Linked DNA regions of Homo sapiens: region 2 is linked to region 1. The links come from fine-mapping of genetic effects on gene expression. A gene starts in region 1. The other region holds a variant in brackets. All regions are shown on one strand. Distances are between the middles of the regions.

Region 1 (8,941 bases):
AATCCTAAGCCAGACCATCTTTTTCCCAGCACAGGTGTGTCTCCACCACTTCCCTCTTTTCAAACACTATTTCAGGTGCACGGAGATATCCATGCCTCCACTCTCACACTGTTTTCTCATCTTTTTTTCCCACATTCAAAATCCTCTGAATTCAGAGCCAGCTAAAGATTCCCTCCTCTGCCCCATGCATAGTTACCTGGGCCATGTCCCCTGGTGGTAAGCATCCTTGGAAAGGCTGCAGTGAAGTCTCTCTGCCGAGTCGGTGCAGGGGTGACCTTGGCTAATGTCAGAAACAACATAAGGATGAAAATTATCTGAGAGCAGAAAGCTTATTTCAGGGAATCAAAGGGGCAGCAAGAAAAAAATGCGAAAGACAATTAAGAAAGAGAAATACACCCTCAGCTTCCAAACCTGCCTGGATACCTACGTTGAGAGTGTATCACACACTTCAAATGTTTGACAAAGGTAAGATGCAGTCATCATTGTTACATTCTGATTATTAATAGCGGAACTAACAGCCACACAAATGGCCATAATTACAGGTTGAAGACTCCTTATCTGAAATGCTTGAGATCAGAAATGTTTTAGATTTTGAATTTTTTTTTTTTTTTTGAAACGGAGTTTTGCTCTTGTTGCCCAGGCTGGAGTGCAATGGCATAATCTCGGCTCACTGCAACCTCCGCCTCCTGGGTTCAAGCAATTCTCCTGCCTCAGACTCCTGAGTAGCTGGGACTACAGGCATGTGCAACCACACCTGGCTAATTTTGTATTTTTAGTAGAGACAGGGTTTCTCCATGTTGGTCAGACTGGTCTCGAACTCCCGACCTCAGGTGATCCACCCACCTCAGCCTCCCAAAGTGCTGGGATTATAGGCATGAGCCACCACGCCCAGCCATGTTTTTATTTTTTTATTTTTTAGTATCTGCCTATACTTATGTTCCAATGAGCTTTTCCTTTGAATGTCATGTCAGTGTCCAAAAAGTTTTGGATTTTAGAGCATTTCAGATTTTGGTGCATTTTAGGTTTTAGATTTTCAGATTTGGGATGCCCAACCTATAAAGGCTTTTAATAAAATATTATCACATAAAATCCTTCTAATGGCCCACATGATCGGTATTATTGTCATATTTTATAGAAGAGGAGCTCACAGCGTTTCAATAACTTGCTCAGGATTATATAGCTAGTAAGAGGCAGAGTTAGATGTAAACTCAGCTCTATCTGGGCACAAAGTACATGTTATAGAAATCTTAAGTCTGTTCACCTCCCAGCATACATGCATAACCCAGCAGTTCACCATGCTGGCTGCACCTGGGGTAAAATCACCTGAGGTAGACTCTGTAAAAAGCTAATGCTTAGCATCTACCTCCAGAGATGCTGATTTCTCTGGTTTTTGGTAGTGGGGTTTTTTCTTCTGCTTTTTAAGAGATAGGGGTAGCCACAGTATATCAGCCAGGCTGGTCTCAAACTCCTGACCTCAAGTGATCCTCCTGCTTCAGCCTCTCAAAGTATTGGGATTATAGGCATGAGCCACTGTACCTGGCATCTATAGTTGTTTAAAAACTCTCTATGTGATTCTAATGAGAGTCAGGGTCTCTAACCACTGATCTAGGCCTTTCATCCCATCTATACATTCCACCCATGAGTTTTGGCTTTTCTTTTCTTTTCTTTTTTTTTTTTTGAGACAGAGTTTCACCCTTGTCAGCCAGGCTGGAGTACAATGGCGAGATCTTGGCTTACCACAACCTCCGACTCCCAGGTTCAAGTGATTCTCCTGCTTCAGCCCCCCAAGTAGCTAGAATTACAGGCTCCCGTAACCATGCCTGGCTAATTTTTTGTATTTTTAGTGGAGACAAGGTTTTACTATGTTGGCCAGGCTGGTCTCGAATTCCTGACCTCATGATCCACCGGCCTCAGCCTCCCAAAGTGCTGGGATTAGAGGTGTGAGCCACCACGCCCAGGCACACCCATGAGTTTTAAAACAGAGAGAAGGTGTTAAATATCACTGAGCATCACCAATGGGGCCTGTTAAACTTTAGGTCTTAGTGGCCCTCCTCCAGGGCTATAATTAGGGAAGTCAGAGATGAGAACAATCAGTACCTTTAATATGATCCACAGATAAATCTTATTCATAAAGATGGCATGCAAATGTCCACTCACCTGGTTTGATGACCAACTTCAGGTTAAATTTTTCATCATTCATTATGCCTGGGATTTGGATCCGGCAGCAGTAGATCCCACTGTCTGCTAGAGTCACATTCTCTATGGTCAGGGACACATCTCCTTTGCGGAAATCCCCATTTAGCCAGTATCTGGATGTCCAATAATTCACATCCCTTTCATCAGTCCTGAGCACCACGTTGCCACATTCAAACACAGGACAGGCTCCTTTGCCCCAGCAGACGGGCACGAGGTTCCCTGGGGCGGCTGGGGTGTAGAAGCAGGGCAGATAGGCATTCTGACCGACCTCCGCTCTGTATTCCACTTCTGAGGACCCTGCATAGAGAGAGAAGGAGAGCCAAGACTCAAGCGGTGAGTGAGGTTACTCCATTTCAGGAAAACTGCAAGCCATGTCTTACAGAATAAAGAGGAAGCTACTGCTGCAGTCCTGTTTGGAGGATGATTCGCTGTGACAATGCTTCTCAGATGTGAAGGCCATCAGAATCACTGGGAAGCCTTGCGAAAACACAGATTGCTGGGCTCAACTGCTAGAGTTCCTGACTCAGTTGGCCTGTGGTAGAGCCTGAGAACTTTTATTTCTAACAAGTTCTCAAGTGTTGCTGAAGTGGCTGGTCTCAGAACCTCACTTTCAGAAACACTGCCCTAGGAGAGAATTGTGGCCCAATTCTGTGAACACGGGAGAACAGGGCTGATGGAAACAGACAATCAGAAAATTAGTCATGGTCAGCCAGGAAACGGCCCGCCCATCTGGGCTACTTGCTTGTTCATCAACAAAGGGAGGCTCTCCTAACATACTTCTCTTTTTAAGCAGCAAGTGCACAGTAAATACAAACCCTTGGTTAAATAAGGATCTTGTGTATTTGAAACTACTCATGGAGTTGTTTTAAGGTTTAAAGTTGTGAAAAGAAATTAAATTTTGGGACCCCAAACTCATTCAGTCAAAGGGAAAAGTCAAGCTGGGAACTGGGTCACAGAAACCTGCCTCCTCTTTTTGATTCCTGAATAAGATGGCTACAGGATGAAAGGCTGCATACCTCCCCCATATTTTGCCCACAAGGAAATTCCTGGTCAGCTGTGCAATGCAGATTGATAGCTCATCTTTACCGGTGCGGTCACCCTGGCCAGACACAAATGCGTTATCTGATTGTTTCCCTACCCCATTTTGTCTGTGTTATCTAATGTAAAATGCAGATTCCCCATATTTTTCCTCTGCCCCCCCCCCTTTTTTATGTGAAAACTGAGTGCTTCTCAATATCCCACCTTGTCCCCTTTAAATCTGGAGCCCTCAAAATCATCTTCTGAGAAAGTCATAGACCTGTCTCTCAGGTGCCTCCTTAACTTTGGCAAACAAATCTCCTAAAATGATTGAGACTTGTCTCCTCATTTTCCTCAAATGACAAAGTTAATTCCATTAAAAAAAAACTATATATATTTTATATATGATAAAACATTCATTATATATTTTCTTTTGATTTTTTATGTCCCCTTTGTTTTCATATGACTCAACTACAGTAAAAACATTCAAACACTATCAAAGGTGTATGAAAAAGTGGCCGGGCACACGGTGGGTCACGCCTGTAATCCCAGCACTTTGGGAGGCTGAGATGGGCAGATTACTTGAGGCCATGAGTTTGAGACCAGCCTGACCAACATGGTAAAACCCTGTCTCTACTAAAAATTAAAAACATTAGCTGGGTGTGGTGGTGCACGCCTGTGATCCCAGCTACTCCGGTGCCTAAGGCAGGAGAATCACTTGAACCTGGGAGGCGGAGATTGCAGTGAGCCAAAATGGTGCCACCACTGCACTCCAGCCTGGGCAATAGAGTGAGACTCCATCTCAATTGAAAAAAAGAAAAAGAAAGAAAAGAAAAAGAAAAAAAGGAAAGAAAAGAAAAGAAAAATATGCCTTACTCTCCCAACTCTTTACCATTCCCTGGTTCCTTTTCCTAGAGCTTATACATTAAGAAATGTCCACATATTCCTGCTCCCCGACAATGCACACACACAAATAGAAGCCTAATATATGCATTATTCTGCAACTTTTTTTCTTTAATAACATTATAATTTTGAGACATTCTATACCAGTATGTTTTGTCAGACTCACTGTTTGTATCATGATTATATCACATTTATTTACCCACTCCCTCATCGACGGACATTTAGGTTGCTTCCAAGCTTTTGCTATTACAAACAACATTACAATGGCCATCCTTGTATCTCTCCCTTGTCCTCTGTACAGCACCATTATGTCATTGTAAATATCCATGCCGAGACTTACTTGTAAGTAGTAGCAGCAGCAGCAGCAGGACACAGTCAAAGGGAAGATGTGAAAACATGGAGCTTGCAGAAGAAAAGTCAGAGGACACCTCTGTTAGGCACAGTTTTAACTCTCCAAATGGACTGGGTACTTCTTCCAACTGTCTACTCCACAATCACATGAGCAGTAGCCGCCCCCACTGAGTGCTAGCTCAGCACACCCGGGTGTCTGATTGCCAGTGATTCTTATAGTAACACTGCCAGGTCTACAGTCACATTAAAGGAAACCAAAGTTCTCTGTCATGCCACACTACACACATCCTGTAAGTGTTCTGATGTCTGTCCTGTGATATCAACAAAGAGGAAGCAATACTTCAGTGGAAGAAAACGCTACTCAGTCATGGCACATAAAGAGAACCCTCTAATAATGTCTCAGATGAGATACACCTGAAATGGAGCATGTCCGAGTCCATCTGACTAGCGGGGAACACAAAGTACAGATGCATCATCCATGGATTCATTCACTCAAATCAGTCCCTTCATCAGGCCTGTGACCAAAGTTTATGAAGCCCCTACTTTGCACCAGGCACTGGACTAGGAAGTGGAACACAACAGTGAATGGCATGTTCCTTATCCTCACATTTACAGACCATAGCAACTCCCAGCATAAGCCTCACTCTCATCCTTCTTCTAACACAGATTAGGTTGTATCCTATAACCTTGCTGAGTCTCAGTTTCCTCATTTATATAATTTATAAAATGAGAAAATTGTATTAGATAATACATGCATGGCTCTCTGTTCTAATATTCTGACTTTGACCTTCAAACTTCCAACTCTTCAATTTAGAAAAAACATGTTCCTTTTGGCAACAGTTCCTTTCCTCTACTCTGAGTAGAATTAAGGGGATCTTGGTATCCTGTTTCATCTCATGCATACAAGGTGCCCCCTCTCCCCTACCCCAAGAGGCTTTGGCCATGAATGATCAGAAAGTGTTGAGTTCCAGCCACACTCCCATAACTGAGGTAACAGCTTAGACTCACGTAGCCTCAGCTCTGGGAGTGTGACCTTTATCTGGACACCTTAAAAGCAAAAGCTTTTTTTTATAAAAGGGAAGTGAGCTCACAGGCTGAGTGGTTTCTGAAAAGCCAGTGGCCTTCCTCTATGTCTTGCCTTCCTGAGTTTCTTTGTCATTCACATTTATGCCATTAAATGCATTGGGTATAAATACCAAATTTGTTCAATATAAACAAATGGCATTTAATATAAATATGCAACTTGTTCAATGTGTGTACTTCCCATAGCATTGCAGAGTGGCAGTTACTCAAGAGATCATAATCAATTTCTCATTTTATTTTATTTTATTTTTATTTATTTATTTATTTTTTTGAGATGGAGTTTCGCTCTTTTTGTCCAGGCTGGAGTGCAATGGCATGATCTCGGCTCACTGCAACCTCTGCCTCCCGGGTTCAAGTGATTCTCCTGCCTCAGCCTCCTGAGTAGCTGGGATTACAGGCATGTGCCACCACCCCGGATAATTTTGTATTTTTAGTAGAGACGGGGTTTCTCCATGTTGGTCAGGCTGTTCTTGAACTCCCGACCTCAGGCGATCCACCCGCCTCGGCCTCCCAAAGTGCTGGGTTTACAGGCATAGCCACCGCGCCCGGCCAATTTCTCATTTTATAGACAAGGAATCTGAGACTTCAGAAAATTGATTTGCCGAAAGGCACATGATTGGTGATTTAGAATGAGAGCATAAGCCCCCTAAGTGACAGATTTTTTCCACTATAAATTATGTTTTATTAATTTAATGTTTGTCTTCCCACATAACTAATAACCAGCAAATGACCATATTCAAGCATAAGGTAGAATAGATTAAATATGGGGTCTGGGGTTATTTTTATTAGCAGCATGAACTTGGTCAAGGCTCTTAAAAGCATCAGCCCTCAGTTTCTGTGTTTTGTTTTGTTTTGTTTTTGTTTTTGTTTTGAGACAGAGTCTTGCTCTGTCGCCCAGGCTGGAGTGCAGTGGCGCGATCTCGGCTCACTGCAAACTCCGCCTCCTGTGTTCAAGCAATTCTCCTGTCTCAGCCTCCCAAGTAGCTGGGACTAAGAGCGCACACCACCATGCCCGGCTAATTTTTGTATTTTTAGTAGAGACAGGGTTTCACCATATTGGTCAGGCTGGTCTCGAACTTCTGACCTCAGGTGATCTACCTGCCTCGGCCTCTCAAAATGCTGGGATTACAGGCATGAGCCACCGTGCCCAGCGATGTTTTGTTTTTACCACTTTGTTTTCTGCTCATTTCTAGAATTGCTACTGAGACCAGCTTTATAAAACATTAACAATTTATTAGTTCATTAAAGTCTAGATATGAAGGGGTCTAGAGATCTCCTTTAACTCTCTTGTGTGTGTAGGGAGCTGGTTCTGAACATTTTCATGTTCACTTAACTTTTATTTCCTGTTTATTTTCTTAAAAACTTTAGATAATACATTCAAATAGTTAAAAAGTAAAAGGAATATAAAAAGCTCAAGAAGCCTTGATCCCATGATCCCATCCTTCCATGTTTACCCCCATTTCTCCCACCTATGCTATAGGTTTTCTTTTTTTTTTTTTTTTGACATAGAGTCTCGCCCTGTCACCCAGGCTGGAGTGCAGCGTCACGATCTCAGCTCACTGCAACCTGCGACTCCCAAGTTCAAGCGATTCTCCTGCCTCAGCCTCCTGAGTAGCTGAGATTATAGGCACCTGCCACCGTGCCCAGCTAATTTTTGTATTTTTAGTAGAGATGGGTTTTCACCATGTTGGTCAGGCTGATCTCGAACTCCTGACCTTGCAATCTGCCCACTTCAGCCTCCCAAAGTGCTGGGATTACAGGCTTGAGCCACTGCACCCGACCAGGTTTTCATTTTCATAAGTTTCTTGTGTATACTCCCAATGCAAACCCAAGAAAATAAAATATATATTCTCATACTCTCTTTTCTTAGACAAAATACCATATACCTTTTTTGAAACTTGCATTTTCCTATTGTTATTTGCTGAAATATTTATTTTTAAAATTTTATTTATTTTATTTATTTTATTTTTATTTATTTATTTATTTATTTTTTGAGATGGAGTTTCACTCTTGTCTCTCAGGCTGGAGTGCAATGGTGCTATCTCGGCTTACTGCAACCTCTGCCTCCCCTCAGCCTCCCAAGTAGCTGGGATTATAGGCACCTGTCACCATGCCCGGTTAATTTTTGTATTTTTAGTAGAGACAGGGTTTTACCATGTTGGCCAGGCTGGTCTCAAATTCCTGACCTCAGGTGATCTGCCCGTCCCAGCATTCCAAATTGCTGATTACAGGCAGGAGCCGCCGCACCTGGCCCTTTATTTTTTTTTAAATTTGTTTTAATTTATTTTTAGAGACAAGGGTCTCACTAGGTTACCCAGGCTGGTCTCAAACTCCTGGGCTCAAGGGATCCTCCTGCCTCAGCCTCCCAAAGTGCTGGGATTACAGGTGTGAGCCACCATGCCGAGTCTGCTGAAATATTTTTAAACGAATCCCAGACATCGTGCTATTTCACTTTTACGTACTTTAGTGTGCAATCTTCCTTTTTAAAAAATGGGCATTCTGAAGCCGGGTGTGGTGACTCACGGCTGTAATCCCAGCACTTTGGGAGGCCGAGGCAGGTGGATCACCTGAGGTCAGAAGATCGAGACCAGCCTGGCTAACACGGTGAAAACCCCATCTCTACTAAAAATACAAAAAATTAGCCAGGCATGGTGGTGGGTGCCTGTAATCGCAGCTACTTGGGAGGCTGAGGCAGGAGAATCGCTTGAACCAGGGAGGCAGAGGTTGCAGTGAGCCGAGATTGTGCCACTGCATTCCAGCCTGGACAACAAGCGCAAAATTTCGTCTCAAAACAAACCAACCAACAAACAAAAATGGACATTCTGCTAATATAATCATAATATCATTATCGCACATAACAAATTTAATGATGCCTTAGAAGCACCTAGTACTTCAGTCTATAGCCAAATCTCCCTGATTATCTCAAAAATGTCTTTTTTCAATCAGTTTGTTTAAATCCAGATCCAAACAAGTCCCAGCATTGCATTTGTTTGCTATGTCCCTCAAGTCTCTTTTAATCGAAGACAGTCTGCCCTCCACCCCCTTGCCATTGGTTATACAAACCAGTTATACAAACCAGGTTTTGTCCTGTGAAATGCTCCACATTCAGGGTTTGTCTGTTTCCCTGTGGGGTCATTTACATTATTCCTCTTTTCTTCGAATTTGCTGAAAATGAAAGTTTGCTCTAGAGGTTTAGTTGGAACGTGGTTTGACTTCTTGGCAAAAACACGTCACAGCTGGTGCCTTGTGCTTCACATTTCATCACAATTGTCTGGTTGCTCCACAGCATGCAACCTTCTTTTTTAAATGTATTTAAATTTTTTTTTTTTTTTTTTGAGACGAAGTCTTGCTCCATCACCCAGGTCAGAGCACAATGGTGCAAACTCGGTTC
Region 2 (8,941 bases), 66 kb before region 1:
ACAGTGGCTCACACCCATAATCCTAGCACTTTGGGAGGCTAAGGCAGGAGGATAGCCTGAGCCCAGGAGTTTGAGACCAGTTTGGTGAGACCCTGTCTCCAGAAAAAAATAAAACTGGCCAGGCGTGGTGATGCATGCCTGTGGTCCCAGCTACTTGGGAGGCTTGGGGTGGGAGGATCACTTGAGCCTGGGAGGATGAGTCTGCAGTGAGCTGTGATCGTGCCACTGCACTCCAGCCTGAGCAATGGAGTGAGACTCTGTCTCGAATAAATAAATAAACCATAACTTTAACATCCAGAAATGAGCACTTTTGCCATTTTGCTTTATATACTTTTATAGAATTTTATCCTTCTAGGATTTTTTCTTAACAGAAATAATTACTATATTCTATATGAACTATAGTATATCCTAATTGTATACTATTTTAAAAGTAGCTTCTTTCACTTAATAATGTGTTATAACCAACATATTATAACATTCTATAACCTATGTCAGTAAATGCACTGCAATGACTACATTCTTATGCTCTGTTGCCCAGGCTGGAGTACAGTGGTGCAATCTCGGCTCACTGCAATCTCCACCTCCTGGGTTGAAGCGATTCTCCTGCCTCAGCCTCCCAAGTAGCTGGGATTACAGGCACCCGCCACCACACCCAGCTAATTTTTCTATTTTTAGTACAGAGGAGGTTTCATCATATTGGTCAGGCTGGTCTCAAACTCCTGACCTCAGGTGATCCACCTGCCTCAGCCTCCCAAAGTGCTGGAATTACAGGCGTGAGCCAGCGTGCCCTGCCAATGACTACATTCTTTACGGCAATACGTGCACATGCTTAACTAAGTAATCCCTTACTATTAAACATTTAGGTTGTTTATAATATTTTCATGATTATAAGTGTTAACAATGAACATCCTTCTCATACATTTTTATTTATTAGTTCAATTTTTTCCTTAAGATAGAGCCCAGGAAAGTGACCTACTGGGTCAAAATGTATTCTGCATGTTTTCAAGATACCTGGGAGAAGACATCTTGACATCTTCAGTCAAGGCACAGAAAGCCCAAGTTTCTGCTACTGCCAACCTTGAACCGGCCTCTAAATTGTTTTCCCTTACTTCTAAACATACCTATTCTGTAGGTAACTGAGACCAAGAATAACCTCACCGGCCAGGCGCGGTAGCTCACGTCTGTGGAATCCCAGCACTTTGGAAGGCCAAGGCGGGTGGATCACCTGAGGTCGGGAGTTGGAGACCAGCCTGACCAACATGGAAAAACCCTGTCTCTACTAAAAACACAAAATTAGCCAGGCCTGGTGGCAGGTGCCTGTAATCCCAGCTACTCGGGAGGCTGAGGCAGGAGAATTGCTTGAACCTGGGAGGCGGAGGTTGCAGTGAGCCAAGATCGCGCCATTGCCCTCCAGCCTGGGTAACAAGAGTGAAACTCTGTCTCAAAAAAAAAAAAAGAAAAGAAAAGAATAACCTCACTATCCTGAGGAGTATTTTTTAAATCCAGCACAAATCTAGCCACACGTCAACACATTGAACATATACATGGTGGTAGTTCTGATATTTAGCCAGTATGTCAGATCAATCAGTGCATGCCATACAAGTTGCTAAATGTTTAAATGTTACGCCATGTAATGGCATTCACAATGTCACTAAGGTATTTGGCTCTACACTAAATAGCCCCACTTTGATCATTTTGAATTTTTTATACAATGGCCACGTTGTCATTTCTTACAACTGGCTATCAGAAGGATTATTCTCGGGCCAGCTGCGGTGGCTCATGCCTGTAATCCCAGCACTTGTGGGAGGCCAAGGCAGGCAGATCACCTGAGGTCAGGAGTTCCAGACCAGCATGGCCAACGTGGTGAAATTCCATCTCTACTAAAAACACAAAAACTAGCCAGGCATGGTGGTGGGCGCCTATAATCCCAGCTACTGGGGAGGCTGAGGCACAAGAATCACTTGAACCCGGAAGGTGGAGGTTGCAGTGAGCTGAGATTGTGAAACTGTACTCCAGCCTGGGCGATGAAAGTAAAACCCTGTCTCAAAAATAAATAAATAAATAAATAATAAAAAATAAAAACCTCAGAAGGATTATTCTCATAACCTCAGACTTTTTTTGTTTGTTACTTCAAAAAGTTACTTGCACATACTAAAAGGCAGATTGTTTCTTACAGGAGCCAAAAGAAAAGATCTTATTAGTAAATCTATCTAACTTACATGGAGGTAGAAGACTTTGATGAGCATCATAAGACTAAGTCCCTTAAATTTTTCCCAAGTTCACTGAGAAAAAAAGTATGGAAACATTTTACAGAATCAAAGTTATTATCTAGGACTTTGTTATCTTAAAAAATCATCCTGGGCCGGGTACGGTGGCTCACGCCTGTAATTCCAGCACTTTGGGAGGCCAAGGCGGGAGGATCACTTGAGATCAGAAGTTCAAGACCAGCCTGGTAAACATGATGAAACCTCATCTCTACTAAAAACACAAAAATTATCCAGGTATGGTGGTATGCACCTGTAATCCTAGCTACTTGGAAGGCTGAGGCAGGGGAATCACTTGAACCCAAGAAGAGGAGGTTGCAGTGAGCTGGGATCCCGCCAGTGCACTCCAGCCTGGGTGACAGAACAAGACTGTCTCAAAAAATAAAAAAAAGAAAGAAAGAATAAAAAGTCATCCCATGGGGAGGTTTATGTATAGAAAAACATCAATAGACATTTTAAAATTTCTACATAAAATGGTCATTAGGTAGGGAAAATATATTAGGAAAATAAACATATTATGTTCCTTTCACTTACATTTTACTTTTGTTTGGGGCAGCCTCTACTCCACCCCATCAAAGCATGCTGTTTCCCTATTGATAATTGAATTCCTCCTTGGTGTGTTATCTTAACTTGTTCTCCTTAAATTAGCTCATTCGGGCCCGGGCGCGGTGGCTCACGCCTGTAATCCCAGCACTTTGGGAGGCCGAGGCGGGTAGATTGCCTGAGGTCAGGAGTTTGAGACTAGCCTGGCCAACATGGTGAAACCCCACCTCTACTAAAAATACAAAAATTAGCCAGGCGTGGTGGCGTGCGCCTGTAGTCCCAACTACTCTGGAGGCCGAGGCAGGAGAATTGCTTGAACCCAGGAGGCGGAGGTTGCAGTGAGCTGAGATCGCATCACTACACTCCAGCCTAGGAGACAGAGTGATGTTCTGTCTCAAAAAATTAGCTCATTCTTTCTTCCCCTATTTTCTCCCAACAGAAAGTCTGTGTACTATGTATCTAAGTACGCTATTCAGTAACATAATCTCTTTGGGCATCTCTGACAAACTGGGTCACCTAAATGAACTTTCCAAATTAAAGCATCCCGAGGCGGGCGGATCATGAGGTCAGGAGATCGAGACTATCCTGGCTAACACGGTGAAACCCCGTCTCTACTAAAAATACAAAAAATTAGCCGGGCATGGTGGCGGGCGCCTGTAGTCCCAGCTATTCGGGAGGCTGAGGCAGGAGAATGGCCTGAACCCGGGAAGCGGAGCTTACAGTGAGCAGAGATTGCACCACTGCACTCCAGCCTGGGCAACAGAGCAAGACTCCGTCTCAAAAAAAAAAAAAAAAAAAATTAAAGCATCCTATTTAAGAGTGAAATTATTTTCTTCAACTTTTTTTTAAGAAGAAAAAAAAAATTCTGTGGGC[T/C]AGTCTTACAGACATAGTCTTTAAATGTAACTTGCTTCCAAGGAGATATACAAGTGAATCTGGCTAATCAAATAGGGCGGAATATGCTTACAGTTTGATTGTTATTCCAAAGGCCATCTGAAGACTCTGTCACGGTGTCATTCCCATCTACTCAACAAGAAGGAAATTTAATTAGAATTACAAAAAATATTGAATTTTCACTGCAGACACTAAATATATTCACATTACCTTCTGGCGATGAAAAGTTGAATGATAATATGACCAAATTCTGCAGGCACTGCAAGAGTCATACCAAGTTATTAATGTTATATTAATTTCTCCTGTAAAGTTGTATTTCTTAACCTTTCTGTCACCGGCTCTTTGAAAATGGACTCTTGTTTTTTCTTTATTAAAAAAATAATGCATGTGCACACACATGAATTTTATCTACTATTTTAGGGTCATCACAGAAGCCCATTCATGGAACCAGGTTAAGAATGCCATTTAAAGGCAATCAATACTTTTATGCTATCTAAACAGCTGTAAATGAATGGTCAGAGGCATGTACATCCAAAAACCAGAACCACCCTTTTCAGAATGGACATCATATTGGTTTTATATTCAGAAGGAGTAAAATATGCTGTAATATCAAAAACAGGTGGCATATAACTCCTGTGTTGTTGCCGATGTGCTTACATTTTGATCTAGAAGTGCTTTAGAAAATATGGCAGCCACCAGATCAAGCATATTATGCCATATAAGGATTAAGATTTTATGTAATATATAAGATACATTTCTCTTAGAGTTGAACATTTAAAAATTTCAACATGTTTTAAAATATCTGCTTTGTAATAGACAGTATATTCTCAGCCAGGCATGGGTGGCTCATGCCTATAAACCCAAGCACTTTGGGAGTCCAAGGCAGGCGGATCACTTGAGGTCAGGAGTTCAAGACCAGCCTGGCCAACATAGTGAAATCCCATCTCTAACAAAAAATACAAAAAATTAGCTGGGCATGGTGGCACATGCCTGTAGACTTAGCTACTCGGATGGCTGAGGTAGGAGAATCCCTGAACCTTGGAGGCAGAGGTTTCGGTGAGCTGTGATGGCACCACTGCACTCCAGGCTGGGCAACAGAGTGAGACCCTGTCCCCAAAAAAGAGTATATTCTGTTGGCCTTCCTAGACAACTATAGGTCAAATACAGAACTGACTTTTTACTGAGCATCTACCATGTAGTGAACACTTTACCTTCTAACAACCAGTTAGTTCCTTAATCCCATTTTTATGGATAAAGAAATACACAGGAAATGGTTAAACGATGATTTCTAATTAAGTGACAAGAGCCTCTGCTGATAACCTACACAACACATTGCACTTCTATCAAATGGAAATACTTAGGTCTATGAAATTCTGTAACTGGTGACAATGCTATAGGGCTCAACATGAATAAACTTGGACTAATATCTCCCCAACATTTACATTACTGTGTTTACATTTTACTGCTTCTGAGGCTTCCTAGAAAGCCAAAGGCAAGGCCAGGCACAGTGGCTCATGCCTGTAATCCCAGCACTTAGGGAGGCTGAGGCAGGCAGATCCCTTGAAGTCAGGAGTTCAAGATCAGCCTGGCCAATGTGGTGAAACCCCATCTCTACTAAAAATATAAAAAATTAGCCAGCGTGATGCTGCACATCTGTAATTCCAGCTACTTGGGAGGCTGAGACACAAGAATTGCTTGAACTCAGGGGGTGGAGATTACAGTGAGCCAAGATTGTGCCACTGCACTCCAGCCTGGGCAACAGAGTGAGACTGAGAAAGAAGGAAGGAAAGGGAAGGGAAGGGAGAAAGAAAGGACGAAGGAAGGAAGGAAGGAAGGAAGGAAGGAAGGAAGGAAGGAAGGAAGGAAGGAGAAAGAAAGAAAGAAAGAAAGAAAGAAAGAAAGAAAGAAAGAAAGAAAGGAAGGAAGGAAGGAAGGAAGGAAGGAAGGAAGGAAGGAGGAAGGAAGGAAAGAAAGAAAGGAAAGAAGAAAGGAGGAAGGAAGGAAGGAGAGAGAAAGAAAGACAAAGAAAGAAGGAAAGAAAGAAAGAAAGAAAGAAAGAAAGAGAAAGAAAGAAAGAAAGAAAGAAAGAAAGAAAGAAAGAAAGAAAGAAAGAAAGAAAGAAAGGAGGGAGGGAGGAAGGAAGGAAGGAAGGAGAAAAGAAAGCCAAAAGCAATATGTAGGTTTATGCAATATATAGAATCTCAGCCCTGTTTGTGACAGGTATTATGACCTTAAGTAACAGTTTCAGGAAGAGGATGGGGTGATGCAGAAAAACAGCACGGACCGGAGTCAATAAAATTTCAGTTCAATGCTGACAATGTCTGTTAGCAATGTAACTTTGATACTCAAGGTCCTTTTCATACACACAGTTATGTATGTATGTATAGGTATATAAAGGGGTGTGTGTTTATGTGTGTATGTGTGTGTGTGTATACAGTAGTGCCCCCTTATCCACAGGGGATATGTTCCAAGACCCTCAAGTAGATGCATGAAACCAAGGATAGTACCAAACCCTATAGAGACCATGTTTTTCCTAGATATACATACCTATGATAAAAGTTCAATTTACAAATTAGGCACAGAACGATATTAACAGCAATAAATAATATAATAGAAAAATTATAGAAATAAACTGTAATAAAAGCTATGGGAATTTAGTCTCTCTCAAAATATCTTAGTATTTGAGGAATATAGTTGACTGCTACAGAAAAGCAAAACTGCAGATAAGGGGAAAACTACTATATATATATTTCTAGCTACAGTACGCATGAACTACAACCTATTAATAGTACACAGCCCATCAAGTTGTTACAATTAAATTAGATGATGCATGTAAAGTGGTTGGCACTAAGCTATTATTATTATATAATGGGAAGAGGAGTGGGGAGGAGGGAGGGATAGATACTATGCAATGCACTTTCCAAATATCATATACTCTAATCATTCAAAGAGGAATGTTCAACAATTTTCCTGTGGGCACAGAACTAGTAACTTATAGCTGAAATGGGAGTTGTGTGTCTCCAGAGCAGATTTATAGCGCCTCCTCAATCTGGCAATAGCATTAAATATGGCCTGCCTTGAAAGAATTAAACAAGATAATATATCCATTTCCTGGCACATACATCTGTCAAAGGTGGGTAGTGGGCCATATGACAGCTCCAATCCTTTCCAGATCTAATATTCCTTGCTTCCATGGGCTTTAGGCAACTGAGGGCCAACCCAGGCACAGTAAGAACTTGGCCCAAGAGCCTTGGATCCACGGCCAAAATGGCAGCAGCCACACAAATCCTGGGGATACAGCTGCTCCACTGTCTGTTCCACCTGGAAAACTCTACTTTGACCAGGTTTCACTGACATAGTATTTCGGAGAATGATTCCCCACTCCTACTTTCTTCCTCCTTACACTCTCAAAGAGTGGGGTGCAGCTGCTCCTACCACTGTTACGTTGTGTTTTTATCTATTTTCATTTTGCTTTTGTGCCTGGAAACAGTTTGCGCTGAGGATTACACTTTCAAAACGAAATGTCGCCATTATCTAATCCCAGTTGAATGAGTCCCTCTGTGAATCACACTGCAGGTCCATTTTAAATTAACCAGCTACCAGGAATGATTGGCAAAAAAAGTAGGCCATGTAGGCTGGGGAGCAGCTGCCTACAGATTGGCAACAGCTGAGTACAATGAGTCATACACACAAGGAGGCCTGCAAGGTGTGACCTTGCTTGGATGCCACACAAGGACACAGAGCCAGCTCAGCATCACAGAGGAGCTCAGCACAGGGCACTCCCAGAGCTTACCACTAAGGGAAACAAGGAGAGTTAGCTGGGAAAGATGACAGGTTTCAGCATCAACTTTCTCCATCACAAGGAAAGACAGGTCAATTCTACACTTCCAAGGAGCAGAGACTCTAAGAGGCCTGTTCAGACTTGAAAGAATAGTAAGGATTGTTTGGAGCAGAGTAGCAGGATCTCAGAGGGTCATGCCTCTTTGATGTTGGTGTGGGTGTCCTCAACTCATCTGTCTTAGTCTGTTCAGGCTGCTATGATAAGATAGCTTAGATTGGGTAATTTAAACAGAAATTTATTGCTCACAGTTCGAGGCTGGGTAGTCCAAGATCAAGGCACAGGCTGATTACTCAATCTAGTGAGGGTCCTCTTTCCTATAGATGGTGTCTTCTATTTGTTCTTATATGGGGGAAGGGTCAAACAAGTTCCCTTGGGCCTCTTTTTGTTTAACTAATTAATTTATTGTTTCTCTCCCATCCAGAAAATGTAACTTGGGCCTTTTATAAGAGCATTGATTCCATTCATGAAGGCGGGGCTCTCATGACCTAATCATGCTCCGAAGGCCCCAGCTCTTAATACTTGCATTGGGAATTAGCTATCAACATGAATTTGGGAATTATCTATCAACATGAATTTAGGGGTGTGGTGTTATGAGATTATACATACATATATAGATAGATAGAGGTCTGTGCATGGTTCCTGGCTCATAACTCCCATATCCCTGATTATAGTCTTTTCTTATCATGGTAAGTATGTTTGACCTCAGGAAACAATATTGGACTTTCTCCTGCTCTCCTTTCACCTGACAAGGCAGAACTTTAATTTCCCCCGCCTTTCTGATTGTGGGTCATAAGACACTTCCCAGAGAGAGTCCTTCCCTGTGCCCCTGGGGGATGGAATGTTGATGTCTTGAAGTTTCCATAAAAACCCAAAAGGCCTGGGTGCGGTGGCTCACGCCTGTAATCTCAACACTTTGGAAGGCTGAGGTGGGCAGATCACCTGAGGTCAGGAGTTCAAGACCAGCCTGGACAACATGATGAAACCCCATCTCTACTAAAAATACAAAATTAGCCGGGCAGGATGACGCATACGTGTAATCCCAGCTACTTGGAAAGCTGAGGCAGGAGAATTGCTTGAACTTGGGAGCAGAGGTTGCAGTGAGCCAAGATCATGTCACTGCCCTCTAGCCTGGGTGATGACAGAGCAAGACTCCGTCTCAAAAAAAAAAAAAGTACAAGAAGACTAGGTTTTGAGAGCTTCCAGATAGTCAAACACTTGGAGGTTCCTAGAAGGTGAAGTTCCCAAGGAAGAGCATGGAACCCTTTCCCATATACCTCATCCTGTGCATCTCATCATCAGTATCCTTTGCAATATCCTTTATAATTATCTGGTAAACATAAGTGTTTCCCTGAGTTCTGGAAGCCACTCCAGGAAATTAATAGAACCCAAAGAGAGGGTTGTG

Evidence for each region.
Region 2: its variant is fine-mapped to the expression of HAVCR2 in whole blood (INTERVAL, PIP 0.95).

Annotation. Positions count from the first base shown.
Region 1 is chr5:157,104,470-157,113,410 of GRCh38, forward strand. It overlaps HAVCR2 (hepatitis A virus cellular receptor 2), which reads right to left and starts at 4,575. Exons shown (of 7, transcript NM_032782.5): 1 at 4,457-4,575; 2 at 2,158-2,493; 3 at 197-280. The coding sequence starts at 4,514. RefSeq lists an enhancer at 4,362-4,511.
Region 2 is chr5:157,038,856-157,047,796 of GRCh38, forward strand. HAVCR1 (hepatitis A virus cellular receptor 1) reads right to left here. Exons shown (of 9, transcript NM_001173393.3): 6 at 3,772-3,827. Among named protein-coding and RNA genes, the nearest start is that of HAVCR1, 16 kb to the right of the region's middle. The variant T/C (reference allele first, on the strand shown) is at 3,681.